Linked DNA regions of Homo sapiens. The protein of the gene in region 1 purifies or fractionates together with the protein of each later gene. This does not show direct contact. Each region holds a gene or a part of one and is shown in the gene's direction. Other genes may lie near its edges.

Region 1 (3,476 bases):
GAACGGAAGCGCCCGCGCTGCCAACCCTCTGTCTTCCACGTTAAATCCGATTTGCTCCAGCAGTGACACCTTGAACCCATTTTGGGGACCGGGCGGGGGTGGGGGTGAGGGGGTGGGCGGGAGTGAGCAAAGTTGGGAGGGGGAGGAAGCGGAGGGAACAATCGGTTGTTTACTGGGAAGCTCTAGCCGAGCTCGCCTGGGCTTGCGGGGCTGCCGTGGCCGCCTCTTCCCGACTCAGCCCGCGGTGGGAACCGAGAGTAGCCGCGCCGAACCCGAGGGTGGGTGGTTCATTCGCTCTTTGGCTTCGGATAAAACAATAGGGCCGAGGAGTGCAATCTGATTCCCACACATTTGTCTGCGACTTCGCAGCGCTCAGGGCCCCTGTGCCACCTTCTCTGTACCTGCTTTCTCAAGCCGAAACGGGCTTGGTGAAACCTGGGCCCGGAGTTAGTATTTTATAGGACCTCACAGTGTACTGCTTACCTCACTCCATCCGCGGAGAAAGCATTTTTGAAGTGGCATGACCAAAACGGAATGCTTTATTCCTTTTCCGTAACACCAGTCTTAGGAGCAAAACTGGTTTTTGGCGAACATCTCCGGGTTTTCTAGACATCGGTAATACGGATTTTTTTTAAGCAGCATTTTTCTTTTAAGTGGGTCACTGGGCGGTCTTGTTGTTACAGTGCTCGAATTCTGCTCTTGTTTTTGCTTGCACATTGCCAGTTGGAATTATATTCATTATAATATATACATGTTAATTTTAGGTTCATGAATCTCAAGGGTCAGATTCCTCCCCTGCTGCCAGTTCAGGCTATGAATCTTCCACTCCACCCGCTATAGCTTCTGCAAACAGTAAAGATACCACTAAAACCCCTTCTGCAGTTCAAACTAGCACCAGCCACAACCCTGGACTTCCTCCTAATTTTAACGAATGGTACGTCTGAGGACAAACACAAACCCTGTTAATTATAGAATGGACCAAATACATTTTTAAAAGAAAACTGAGACCAATCAGATGGAAATGGAGTTTTAAGGCAAGAGGCCATATATAGGGCTACATCTTGTTAATTGCAATTGTCCAGGAAGGTTTTGGGCAAGATCCAAAAGTAGCCATGCCCTTTTCTCAGGATAGAAAATATGTTTTGGCATTTGAAGCATTTTTTACAAAATCTTTACACTACTTTTTCTTCCCCTTCCTCTTGCTCTCTGCACACCCCATTCTTAAACTCCTCCAATTCATTTTAACACTTGTCCTGTTTCTTGAGAGGAAGTTATAGAAGGCTTGTTGGTGGTGGTGATGTTAAACTGATGGAAATTCTTTTTCGCCTTAGTGGTGATTGTTTAAACTCTCACAGTCTTAAACCGTGCCAAAGTCCTGTTATGTCTTGAACTTTTCCTCAAAGCATTACACTTGTGAATGTATTTTTGTCTAATAGGGTCGAAACTGTTGTTCAGTATTTTTTCAGGCTGAGGATGTGATGTTACTCTACACATTGTGACGTTTAGTATACAGTTGCCTTTTGTAATAACTTTTTTTTTGTAAATACATATCCATTGATGCCATATTTATCGTTTGTAATTTAATTATTGCTACAAGTGCCGGGAACTGAACAATATTTATGGATAAATGTTTTCTAACAAATTCTGTACAGCTTTTGATTATAACTGCTTTAGCATTAAAAATTGTTTTGAAAGAAGAACACAATTTACAATTTTGGAACCACTGACTCCTTTCTCTTGTTTTGTAACAGCCTTCTTCTACAAAGAGGAGATGTGAGCAAATTAAATCTTGTTTGTTGGTATTTATAACTCACTCAGATCCCTTTTTTAATTGTTAAATTATTTTTCTATTACAGTATAAATTCCTTACAGTGTCAGTTTCCATCTGGGAAGACTCTCCTTTCTTTATCTCTATCTCAGATGGTTGTTTAACTGCGAGTTTAAATGTGTTTGTCCTGGATTTTCGGCATGCAAATCAAATATTACTGATCAATTCAGTTAGTGGCCATGACATCTCAATCTTGTACTTCAAAGACTGAGAAGCTGGATTTAATCATCCCTGCCCTACATATATAAACATAAGGTAACCTACTGAATTTTATGTCCCTTAGTTCTTTATTACCTTACATAAAAATGAAAATTGCGGCAGGATGCATGTCTGTCTGTTCTATCTAGAGATCACCCATATACCTATATATGTTTGTATCTATGACTTATCTAATCTGCCTATCAATCTATCTAGTAGCTATCTATATATTTTCAAAAGATAGCTTATGTCTAAAACAGTGGTGATGAGTAAGGCCAGTTGAGCATTGCTTACTTATGGTTAAAGTGCTTCTTAAAAGAACCATAGTCCATTTACAATTTTGGAAGGCAAAGGCTGATTTGTTTGCTGTATATAGTTCAATTCATAATTATCGCAATTATCCATAACATTTATATAGCGGTGTAATAACTGCAGCAGTTCTGAAATGATGCTATGGGAAAAAAATTGCAAAATATGTATTTTTAAAGTTCATGATTTGTAGGCAAAGATGTTAAGAGCATTGTTTCCATTAAAATCAATAACAATGAAAAACGGTTGTTTGCTTTGTGATAAAATGTTAACAATCCATTTAATCTTCAGTGAAGCAACTCATTTGGACAAACAGTTCTTTTACAGTGGTTATATGGAAAAGAAATTGATTGCTATTTTGGGGGGCTGGAGTGGGTAGAGTATTGAGACCTTTTTTATTAGGGTGCTGTTTGTTATTGAGAGCCCAATCTCTGCATGAATAACAGAAAGGTGGACATAAGGAATTGTAAAGTATTTAGAATGTATTGAATAGGCTTAAGTACCTCCTTTAAGGGGCAATGCTCTAGGTTTTTGGTGGCAGTCAATTTGGTATTATATATGATCATTTTCAATTCTAGAATTTTGTTTATTGTTCTTTTTGAAGAAATAAAGTCTTGGCACATCTTATTTATGTTATAACATTTTTGTATTTGGTGCCTGATTTTTTTTCATGTTCAAATAAATCAATCTAAAATTGAAATGCTTACAGAACTTCTGATGATTAAAAGAAACTTTGATTCTGTGAATGCGGTTGAAGCAGTCTATTTAAGTTATCTACTGATCTTTGTCAACAGACAATTAGTTATTGACAGTTTCTAATTGCAAATTGCTTTGGAGGCTATTTTTTGTTAGTGGAGAATAATGGGGTCTTTTGCATTTTCTTCCACCAATATCCAAGCCTGAATGCCATGAACAGAGATTGGGATGACTACACATGTGATGAGCAGGTAACCTGGTCAGTCTATCACTCCCAACCCAGACATTCCGATCTTGACCTTGACATTGAGGGTGCTGGACCAGATTCCTATTTCAGGCTTTTTCCTTCACCTCAAACCAGAGACCATTTTAAATGCTCAGCAAGTTCTCAGAAAGTATATATTCATAAGACTGGCTCTAAGTGTGTTCCATTGTGAAATCTAAA
Region 2 (3,500 bases), on another chromosome or scaffold:
ACTAATAAAATTAGGACATGTTTTGATAATACATTTGCTCATCTGTATAAAATTTCATGAGAGGTTTACCAGTGGAAATACTTTGTCAAATTATATTCCTGCAGTAGACAGTTTTGAAAAGAGTCTTTGCATGGAGGGAAGAAGATGTTGCTGTTCACTGGTTATTTGAAGGCCTTGAGTGCCCTCTGCCGACCGGCTTCTGCTTCATGGGTTTTCACTGGTTATTTGAAGGCCTTGAGTGCCCTCTGCCCATCGGCTTCTGCTTCATGGGTTGACATGCGTCTGTAACATCTTTCTTACCAAGTGTATATTTCTTCTTGTATTGTAGGGTTACTATTAAAATACATAGCGATGGTAAACTTGAATCAACTATTTAAAAATACGTGGAATACGTATCTAAGCCAAAAACGGAAAATGAATATTATCTAGGGTGTTAAAGGAAGATAAAATGTTTTTAAGAATTTTTCTTTTTATTAAAAAAATGCAATTAATACATCCCCATTGCAGAAATTTTCAAGTATATATAAGAAAGGAAATTAAATACTCTCGTTACCTAGAAACAATTCAGGAGCTTTTTTTTTTGTCTTTTTTTAAATGCACATCTTCTCGCCACCTGCTTTTTCCCTCCAGTGTCACATATCATTTGATCTTTTCATGTCAGCGAGTTGGTTTTGATGCCATCGTTTGAGAGTGCTGTATGCGGTTCCCTTTCATGCTGTCTGTGTGGTTGCATGTGTGTATACTGGTTTCAGTACTTTAGTATCATAGTGCTACAGGGAACATGCTTTAGAGTTATGAGTTTGTCTGCATACCTAGTTTTCCTTAGGACAATTCAATCCTAGAATTACTGGATTAAATATAAAATTTAAGGTAATAGCTTCTGGCTTATTACTGCATTTTAGATAGTATTACCTTCATCAGCAAGTCTAAAATGAAGTTTTGGTATCGCTGAAAGTTCCTTTCTTGTGTTGAGGTTTTTTAGGAAATGATTGAAGTGATTATGCCCGGTGTAACCATTTATGAACTGTTGTTTCTCTTTCTTTGGAAATGGAAGGGGCCGTTGCATCCTCCATTGCCCCCTCCGCATCAGCCTCAGCCTCAGCAACCTCAGCAACAGCCCCCGCCACAGCACCAGCCTCCGCACCAGCCCCCGCACCAGCCCCCGCCCCAGCACCAGCCCCCACCCCAGCACCCACCACAGCACCCGCCGCAGCACCAGCACCACCACCACCACCACCACCTGTCCGTCCCGCCCCCTCCTTTGATGCCGATGTCTCAGCCACAGTTCCGGCCTCACGTACAGACCGCTCAGCCTCAGGCCAGCAGCAGCCGGATGCAGTGCCCCCAGCGCCAGGGGCTCCGGCATGTAAGTGTCAAGGGGTGTCTTCCCTGTGTCTTCCTGGGAGGCCTTTTAACTTACAGGACTTGAGGGGCATAATATGTAGGTTAGAATATTTTCCAGTTCTGATTTCTGTTTATAAAATGTGTAGTACATAGTTCTGAAGTGAATCCATGTTTTAAAAAACACTCAGGTGATTTGTTTTCTTGACTACAAGAATTGATAAGATACTCCTTTTGTGTCTCAAAGACTGTGTTAATATTTACTTAAGCATCTTTCTTGTATCTAGATATTTCTATAGCAATAGACAGGAATTAATAGACACGTAACTTTAGAAAATACTTTTGGGTGGTAGTCACTTTCCCTTTACCAGTGGCTTATTTTTTGATGTATAGATTATCTCTGTCTTTTTGGTCCCTGAATAAATACATAAATGAATTCAGGAAAAATACGTTGACTGTTCTGTTGCCAGGTGCTACTCTAGTCCTGGAAATACAGCAGTGAACAGAAGAGACAAATTCTTTTCCTTCAAGGAGCTTATACTCAGTCGAGGGAGATTAGCATACATTTATTTGTGGGGTTGTGTTCTCAAGCACCATCAGCAAATGTGTGACTTGTCGTGCATTAAAAGAAACTGGGAAACAATGTATTGCTCTGAAAATAAAAGGCCACAGTCATTGCCCTTGTCCTCCATTAAATACATATAAGAAGCTTTTGTAATTTTGTTTTTAGGAAAGGGAGACACAGTGTGGCTAGTGGTCAGGGTTTTTGCCTCCATTAAATATATATAAGAGGCTTTTGTAATTTGGCTTTTAGGAAAGAGAGACACAATGTGGCTAGTGGTCAGTGGTCAGGGCTCTTGCCTCCATTAAATATATATGAGACTTTGTAATTTGGTTTTTAGAAAAAGAGACACAGTGTGGTCAGTGGTCAGGGTTCTCGCCTGTCAGTTTTCTTTTGGTATTGTCTTCTTTTCACCCTTGAGCTTCAGTCATGTCACTTAGCTGCTTGGAATCTCAGTTTTCCTGATATTTGCCTCTTTCTTTCTTAAAGTAAACATTGCAACTAAAGTGCTGTGAACAGTAAGAAAAGATTTCTAAATCTGAGAAGAGGGTGCTTTATAACCTGGGTTTCATTTGTTAGAATAATGGTAGGCTAGTCTCATGACCCTCGTGCACTGGGATATTTGACCTGCGGGACCTCGGAGATCCCCCTGCTTCCCCCCTCCCCCCTTCCAGCTCTCTCGTGTTCTCTTTGCCTCCTCCAGGTGTTGGTTCTCTCTTAAGAATCCCCAGGATGAATATGACTAAGCATTTCCTCTCGAGTAAAACGTTCTGGCACCTTTCTTCTCCCGGGGGTCATGTTTCTTAGGACATTGACCTGATGCTTGATTCTTTCCTTGTTCCAGCTTAAATTTAAGTGACTAGGTAAAATAGTAGCATGTGAATCCCGTTGATCTCTGGTGGCAGATAGAGTGGTTTTTTGGCTGTCTTAATTCTTTTAAAACTGTCAGTCCCTTTACTGAAGCACCTGCTAAAGATCAGCCTGGTGTAATTTCTATGAAGAGGAGCCTCTCTGTAGGCAAGTATGACAACTTTACCAATGGAAATTGTTAACATTAGGATGAGGCATGCTGCCACATGGATCAGGTGACATTTATGTATGAGAAAAAAAGTATGAGAAAAAAGTATCTGCTCCCCAAAAGAAGTCATTTACTAATTAGAATGATTTATTGTGTTTTTATTTAATAATGTGCCTTTTAATGTTCCTTCTGCCAAGTTTCCACTTACAATTAGAATCTCTTTCTTTTTGTGAAAAGAATACAACTTCTCAGAATGTAAGCAAGCGGCCCATGCAGCAAATGCAGCCCACTGCGCCAAGGAACAGCAATTTGCGTGAATTACCCATAGCGCCGTCACACGTGATAGAAATGAGCAGCAGCCGCTGCTCTGCCACGCCCTCAGCACAAGTGAAACCTATCGTCAGCGCGTCACCACCCTCGCGGGCCGTGGCGGGTTCCAGAAGCTCACAGGGAAAGACGGAAGTGAAAGTCAAGCCAGCTAGCCCTGTGGCTCAACCTAAAGAAGAGGCAAAAACAGAAACAGAGGTAGGACACTGCTCTTATTAACAAATGTTGGTCTCAAACAAGAAGCCTTAGAAT
Region 3 (3,500 bases), on another chromosome or scaffold:
GCTTGGGGATGGGAGGAGAGGGTCTGGGAGGAAGTGGGTCCTCTCAGCGGAGCTGGGATTCCCGTGGGAGAGGCTTGAGGGAAAGGCAGGAGTCTGTTGGGACCAGATCCAGGGGGGCCTCCAGGGCAGCTGGGCGTTTAGAAGGACTTCTCCAGGGGTATGTGGGAGCGAGGTGGGGACGGCAGTTGCATATAGGTCTATCGGGCAGAGGTGAAGTCCTGCTGTTGGGGAGACAGAAATCTCCCACTGTTTCTGTGACTGATGTGGTGGGGCAGTGATGGGGACATTTGAGGCAGTGGATGAGAGTAGGGGCCGGGCGTAGTGGCTCATGTCTGTAATCCCAGCACTGTGGAGGCCAAAGCAGGAGGATCACTTGAGCCCAGGAGTTTGAGATCAGCCTGGGTAACATAGGGAGACCCTGTTTCTACCAGAAAAAAAAAAAAAAAAAAAAAAAAAGGCTGGGCCTGATGGTGCGCACCTGTGGTCCCAGCTACTGAGGAGGCTGAAGTGAGAGGATCACTTGAACACAGGAGTTGAGGCTGCAGTGAGCTGTGATTGTGCCACTGCACTCCAACTCCAGCCTGGGCAATAGAGCGAGACCTATCTCTAAGAAAAAAGAGAGAGAGAGAGAGAGAAAGAGAGAGAGAGACAGAGAGAGAGAGAGAGAGAGAGAGAGAGAGAGAGAGAGAGAGACTAGGGGCAGACTTCTTTAGCAGGAGGGGGCCACGCAGCAGGATAGGGAGAATATTTTTCCTGCCTGGTGCTTGGACCGCGTTGGAATTGCCACTACTGCCCATGGCCCGCTGGATGGTGGGAGGGGCCTAACACATTCTAGTTCCCCCAGCACCTGGTTGCCTCCGAGATAGCTGGAGCTGGATCCACCCCTAGGCCAGGAGCTCCTCCAGGCAGGGCTCCCAGCCTACTCTTCTCTGGGTCCTCAGGCCCACTCGGGGCGGAGTCTCGTACTTGAAAGTCCTCAGAGAGTTGAATGAATGGGTCCAGTCTCCCCATTTTATGGAGAAGGAGTCAGGTTCCAGAGAAGGAAGGAATTGTTCACTGAAGCAGTGAGATTCGAGTCTATTCTGCAGGCATGAGATAGGCGTGACCAGAGGTGGTCAGGGAACCTGAATGACAAAAATCAGGTCAATTCCCACCCTGGGCTCATATCTTAGAGTAAAAGCAAGGTTGTACCTTTTGTCCCCTCTCTTACATCCCCTCCCACCCTCTGCCCCTCGATCATTTGGCTCTAGCCATGCTGCCTACCTCACAGTGACACAGCCACACAGATGCATTGTGGCCCCAGGACCTTTGCACTGCTGTCTGGAATGATTTTTCTCCCAACAACCCCCTTCCTCGCTCCTGTCATCTCCCTTGGGTCTTCATTTAAATGCCACACCAGAGAGGCCCTCCCTGGCCACCCTAATGAAAACTTCAACATCCTCAACCCTAACATTTCCTGTCCCCTGGTTTATTCCTCCCCTTGGTATTTATCACCATTTAATGTACTATCTGGCCGGGCATGGTGGCTCGTGCCTGTAATCCCAGCACTTTGGGAGGCCCAGGCGGGCGGATCACCTGAGGTTAGGAGTTTGAGACCAGCCTGGCCAACATGGTGAAACCCCATCTCTACTAAAAATACAAAAATTAGCCAGGCATAGAGGCATGCGCCTGTAATCCCAGCTACTTGGGAGGCTGAGGCAGGAGAATCTCTTGAAACCGGGAGGCAGAGGTTGCAGTGAGCCAAGATCAAGCCACTGCACTCCAGCCTGGGTGACAGAGCAAGACTCTGTCTCAAAAAACAAAAACAAACAAACAAACAAACAAACAAACAAACAAAAAAACCCAACAAACCCACCAAACATACCATATTTGGTTTCTGTAAAAAAATAAAAAAGAGAGAGAGAATTTTTAAAAAACAAAAACCATACTATCTAATTTACATTTTTAATCTTTTTATCTGTCTCCTGGGATTACAGCAGCTCTGTCAAATAGCAATATAATACAGGCCAGATGTGTAATGTAACATTTTCTAGTAGCCACATTTAATGATAAAAGTAAAAAAGGAACGGGTAACATTAATTTAATGATATATTTTATTTAACCCAGTAGATTGAAAATATTATCATTTCAGCATGTCATCAAATATTTAAAATCTCAGCAAACTATCTTTTTGTTGTACTAAGTCTTGGAAATCTGGTGTGTATCTTACACTTAGAACTCCAGATGGGGATATTTATATTTAAATTTTAAGATGGGGCTCGGTGGCTCACACCTGTAATCCCAGTACTTTGGGGAGCCAAGGCAGGAGGATCGCTTGAGCCCAGGAGTTTGAGACCAGTCTGGGCAACATAGAAGACCCTGTCTCTACAAAACAAATTTAAAAATTAGTAGGCATGGTGGCATGCCTGTTAATACATTTATTTTTTAATTAATAAATTTCAGACATGAATCACCTGAGGCTGGGAAGTCAAGGATGTGGTGAGCCGTGGTTGTACCACTGCACTCCAGCCTGAGCAACGGAGTGAAACCTCATCTCAAAATAAAATAAAATAGATTGAATTTAAATGAATGAAATTGAAAATGTGTTTCCTCAGTGACACATGCCACATTGCAAGTACCCGGTAGTGCACAGGTGGTGGTGGCTTCTGCAGTGGACAGCCCGGGGCTAGAAAGTAAACTTTTGGAGGCAGGCGTCTTCTTCCAGCTTGTCTGTTGCTCCATTGTCAGTGCCCAGAACTGAGCCTGGCCAGGAGTGGTGGCTCACGCCTGCAATCCCAGCACTTTGGGAGGCTGAAGAGGGTGGATCACCTGAGGTCAGGAGTTCAAGACCTGCCTGGACAACATAGTGAGACCCTAATTTCTACAAAAATTGAAAATAATTGGCCAGGCGCGGTGGCTCACACCTGTAATCCCAGCACTTTGGGAGGCCGAGGCGGGCAGATCACCAGGTCAGGGGATCGAGACCAACCTGGATAACACAGTGAAACGCTGTCTCTACTAAAAATAGAAAACAATAGCCGGGTATGGTGGCAGGCGCCTGTAGTCCCAGCTACTCAGGAGGCTGAGGCAGGAGAATGGCGTGAACCCAGGAGGCGGAGCTTGCAGTGAGCCGAGATCGTGCCACTGCACTCCAGCCTGGGCGACACAGTGAGACTCCATCTCAAAAAAAAAAAAAAAAGAAAATAATTAGCCGGGGCCGGGTGTGGTAGCTCATGCCTATAATCCCAGCACTTTGGGAGGCCGAGGCAGGCAGATCACCTGAGGTCAGGAGTTCGAGACCAGCCTGGCCAACATGGTGAAACCCTGTCTCTACTAAAAATACAAAAATTAGCTGGGCGTGGTGGCAGACGCCTGTAATCCCAGCTACTTGGGAGGCTGAGGCAGGAGAATCACTTGAACCCTGGATGCCGAGGTTGCAGTGAGCTGAGATCACGCCATTGCACTCCAGCCTGGGCAACAAGCGAGACTCCGTCTCAAAAAAAAAAAAAAAAAAAAAAAAA
Region 4 (2,500 bases), on another chromosome or scaffold:
GTGGCGGCAGAGGGTCAGGAAGTGGAGGGTTGATGGGCGTGTGGGGGGCAGGGCTCAGCCTCCTGGTGCTGAGCCAGAGAGGGACCAGCAAGCGGGTGAGGGAGGCTGTCTCAGGTCCTAAGGCTGGCTCTGCCCCCCCAAGATGGTGCTCCCCACCATGACACTCTCCTCACCCCCCTTGTCTCCTCAGCTGCAGCAGAAGGCCGTGGCTAGTGAGATCTTCAAGGGCAAGAAGGATAATTACCCTCAGAGTGTACCCAGGCTCTTCATCAGCACTCGGCTTGGTGAGCCCCTGACTTTCCAGCACTCAGACCTTTCGTCACCATCCTGGTCCCCCATTGCCTCCACTGACTTCCCTCCCCGCCATCTGAGTTGCAGGTACAGATGAGATCAGCCCCCGAGTGCTGCAGGCCTTGGGCTCTGAGCCCATTCAGGTAAGAGCCTGCCTGCAGCCCTGAGTCCAGCAGCACGGTGCTACTGCCTGAGAGCTGAAGGCAGGTCAGGGCAGGGGCGGAGCCTTGGGAGCCTCTCCCCAGCCCCTTCAGCCTGGCCTCTGTCCCCAGTATGCGGTGCCTGTTGTGAAATACGACCGCAAGGGCTACAAGCCTCGCTCCCGGCAGCTGCTGCTCACGCCCAACGCCGTCGTCATCGTGGAGGACGCCAAAGTCAAGCAGAGGATTGATTACGCCAACCTGACCGGTCAGCCAGGGTCCAGGGCTGCAGGGGGAGGGCCCTGCTCTGACCCTCGACCTCTGACCTTTGCCCTCTCCCCTCAGGAATCTCTGTCAGCAGCCTGAGCGACAGTCTTTTTGTGCTTCATGTACAGCGTGCGGACAATAAGCAAAAGGTGCCTTTTCATGGATGGGGAGGAGTGGTGGGGGATGGGGGAGGTAGATGGGGAGGTGGGGTGGATGGGGGAATAGGGGGTGTGGGGGTGGATGGGGAGGTGGGAGGGTGGATGGGGGTAGATTGGGGGGTCAGGAGGTGGATGGGGAGGTGGGAGGGTGGATGGGGGTGGATTTGGGGGTCAGGAGGTGGATGGGGAGGTGGGGCGGGGGTTCCTCAAGTTCTGGGCAGGGCCTGACCCCTCCTCCTGCCTGGCCCCCCAGGGAGATGTGGTGCTGCAGAGTGACCACGTGATTGAGACGCTGACCAAGACAGCCCTCAGTGCCAACCGCGTGAACAGCATCAACATCAACCAGGGCAGGTGAGGCGCGGGCGGCCCCCGGGGACAGGGCGGGGGTGGCGAGGGGGCTGTGTGGGCACCCAGGGACAGGGTGGGGGTCCACCTTAGGGTTGGGGGTCTGCCTCCATGGAAAAACCCTCACCCACCCCGTTCCCCCAGCATCACGTTTGCAGGGGGCCCCGGCAGGGATGGCACCATTGACTTCACACCCGGCTCGGAGCTGCTCATCACCAAGGCCAAGAACGGGCACCTGGCTGTGGTGAGTGGGGCCTGCTTTCCCGCTTATGGCCTGGCTGTGATAGCCAAGCCTTCCTTGGCTGTGCTTGGCAGAGCCCAGGCACCTCACCATGGGCCTTCATCCAGAGGCCATCATACCACCTCTTCCATCCCTTGGCCCACCCATGAGGGCCAGAGAGAGCCCCTCAGTGCAGAAAGTTGTAAAGGTGGCAGCACGGTGGCTCATGCCTATAATCCCAGCACTTTGGGAGGCTGAGGCGGGTGGATCACCAGAGGCCAGGAGTTTGAAACCAGCCTGGCCAACATGGCAAAACCCATCTACTAAAAAAATGCAAAAGGCTGGGTGCAGTGGCTCACACCTTTAATCCCAGCACTTTGGGAGGCCGAGGTGTGTGGATCACCCGAGATCAGGAGTTCGAGACCAGCCTGGCCAACATCGTGAAACCCCATCTCTACTAATAACACAAAAATTAGCCGGGCGTGGTGGTGCACGCCTGTAATACCAGCTACTAGTGGGGGCTGAGGCGGGAGAATTGCTTGAACCCAGGAGGTGGAGATTGCAGTGAGCTGATATCATGCCACTGCACTCCAGGCCTGGGGAACAGAGTGAGATGTCATCTCAAAAAAAAAAAAAAAGGCCAGGCACAGTGGCTCACGCCTGTAATCCCAGCACTTTGGGAGGCGAAGGCAAGTGGATCACCTGAGGTTGGGAGTTCGAAACCAGCCTGACCAACTGGAGAAACCCCATCTCTACTAAAATACAAAATTAGCCGAGTGTGGTGGCGCATGCCTGTAATCCCAGCTACTTGGGAGGCTGAGGCAGGAGAATCGCTTAAACCCGGGAGGTGGAGGTTGCGGTGAGCCGAGATTGCGCCATTACACTCTACCCTGGGCAACAAGAGCAAAATTCCATCTCAGAATTTGTATACAAAAAAGTTAGCCTGGTGTGGTGGCGTATGCCTGTAGTCCCAGTTGCTCAGAAGCCTGAGATGAGAGGATTGCTTGAGCCCAGGAGGTTGAGGCTGCAATGAGACCCAAGATCTCACCACTGCACTCCAGCCTGGGTGACAAAATGAG

Evidence for each region. The genes of interacting proteins can lie anywhere in the genome.
Region 2: the proteins of ZIC3 (region 1) and RBM33 purify together in Homo sapiens (affinity purification with mass spectrometry; one large-scale study listed by BioGRID and IntAct). This does not show direct contact.
Region 3: the proteins of ZIC3 (region 1) and MYH14 purify together in Homo sapiens (affinity purification with mass spectrometry; one large-scale study listed by BioGRID and IntAct). This does not show direct contact.
Region 4: the proteins of ZIC3 (region 1) and MYO1C purify together in Homo sapiens (affinity purification with mass spectrometry; one large-scale study listed by BioGRID and IntAct). This does not show direct contact.

The regions. Positions count from the first base shown.
Region 1 is NC_000023.11:137,569,127-137,572,602, forward strand, and holds the end of ZIC3 (zinc finger protein ZIC 3), read left to right. Parts: intron 1-764; coding exon 765-944; 3' UTR 945-2,976; downstream 2,977-3,476. UniProt on the Homo sapiens protein: Acts as a transcriptional activator. Required in the earliest stages in both axial midline development and left-right (LR) asymmetry specification. Binds to the minimal GLI-consensus sequence 5'-GGGTGGTC-3'.
Region 2 is NC_000007.14:155,738,661-155,742,160, forward strand, and holds part of RBM33 (RNA-binding protein 33), read left to right. Parts: intron 1-1,054; coding exon 1,055-1,366; intron 1,367-3,158; coding exon 3,159-3,446; intron 3,447-3,500. UniProt on the Homo sapiens protein: RNA reader protein, which recognizes and binds specific RNAs, thereby regulating RNA metabolic processes, such as mRNA export, mRNA stability and/or translation.
Region 3 is NC_000019.10:50,206,622-50,210,121, forward strand, and holds part of MYH14 (myosin-14), read left to right. Parts: intron 1-3,500. UniProt on the Homo sapiens protein: Cellular myosin that appears to play a role in cytokinesis, cell shape, and specialized functions such as secretion and capping.
Region 4 is NC_000017.11:1,466,187-1,468,686, reverse strand, and holds part of MYO1C (unconventional myosin-Ic), read left to right. Parts: intron 1-190; coding exon 191-284; intron 285-378; coding exon 379-434; intron 435-563; coding exon 564-699; intron 700-776; coding exon 777-847; intron 848-1,109; coding exon 1,110-1,207; intron 1,208-1,345; coding exon 1,346-1,445; intron 1,446-2,500.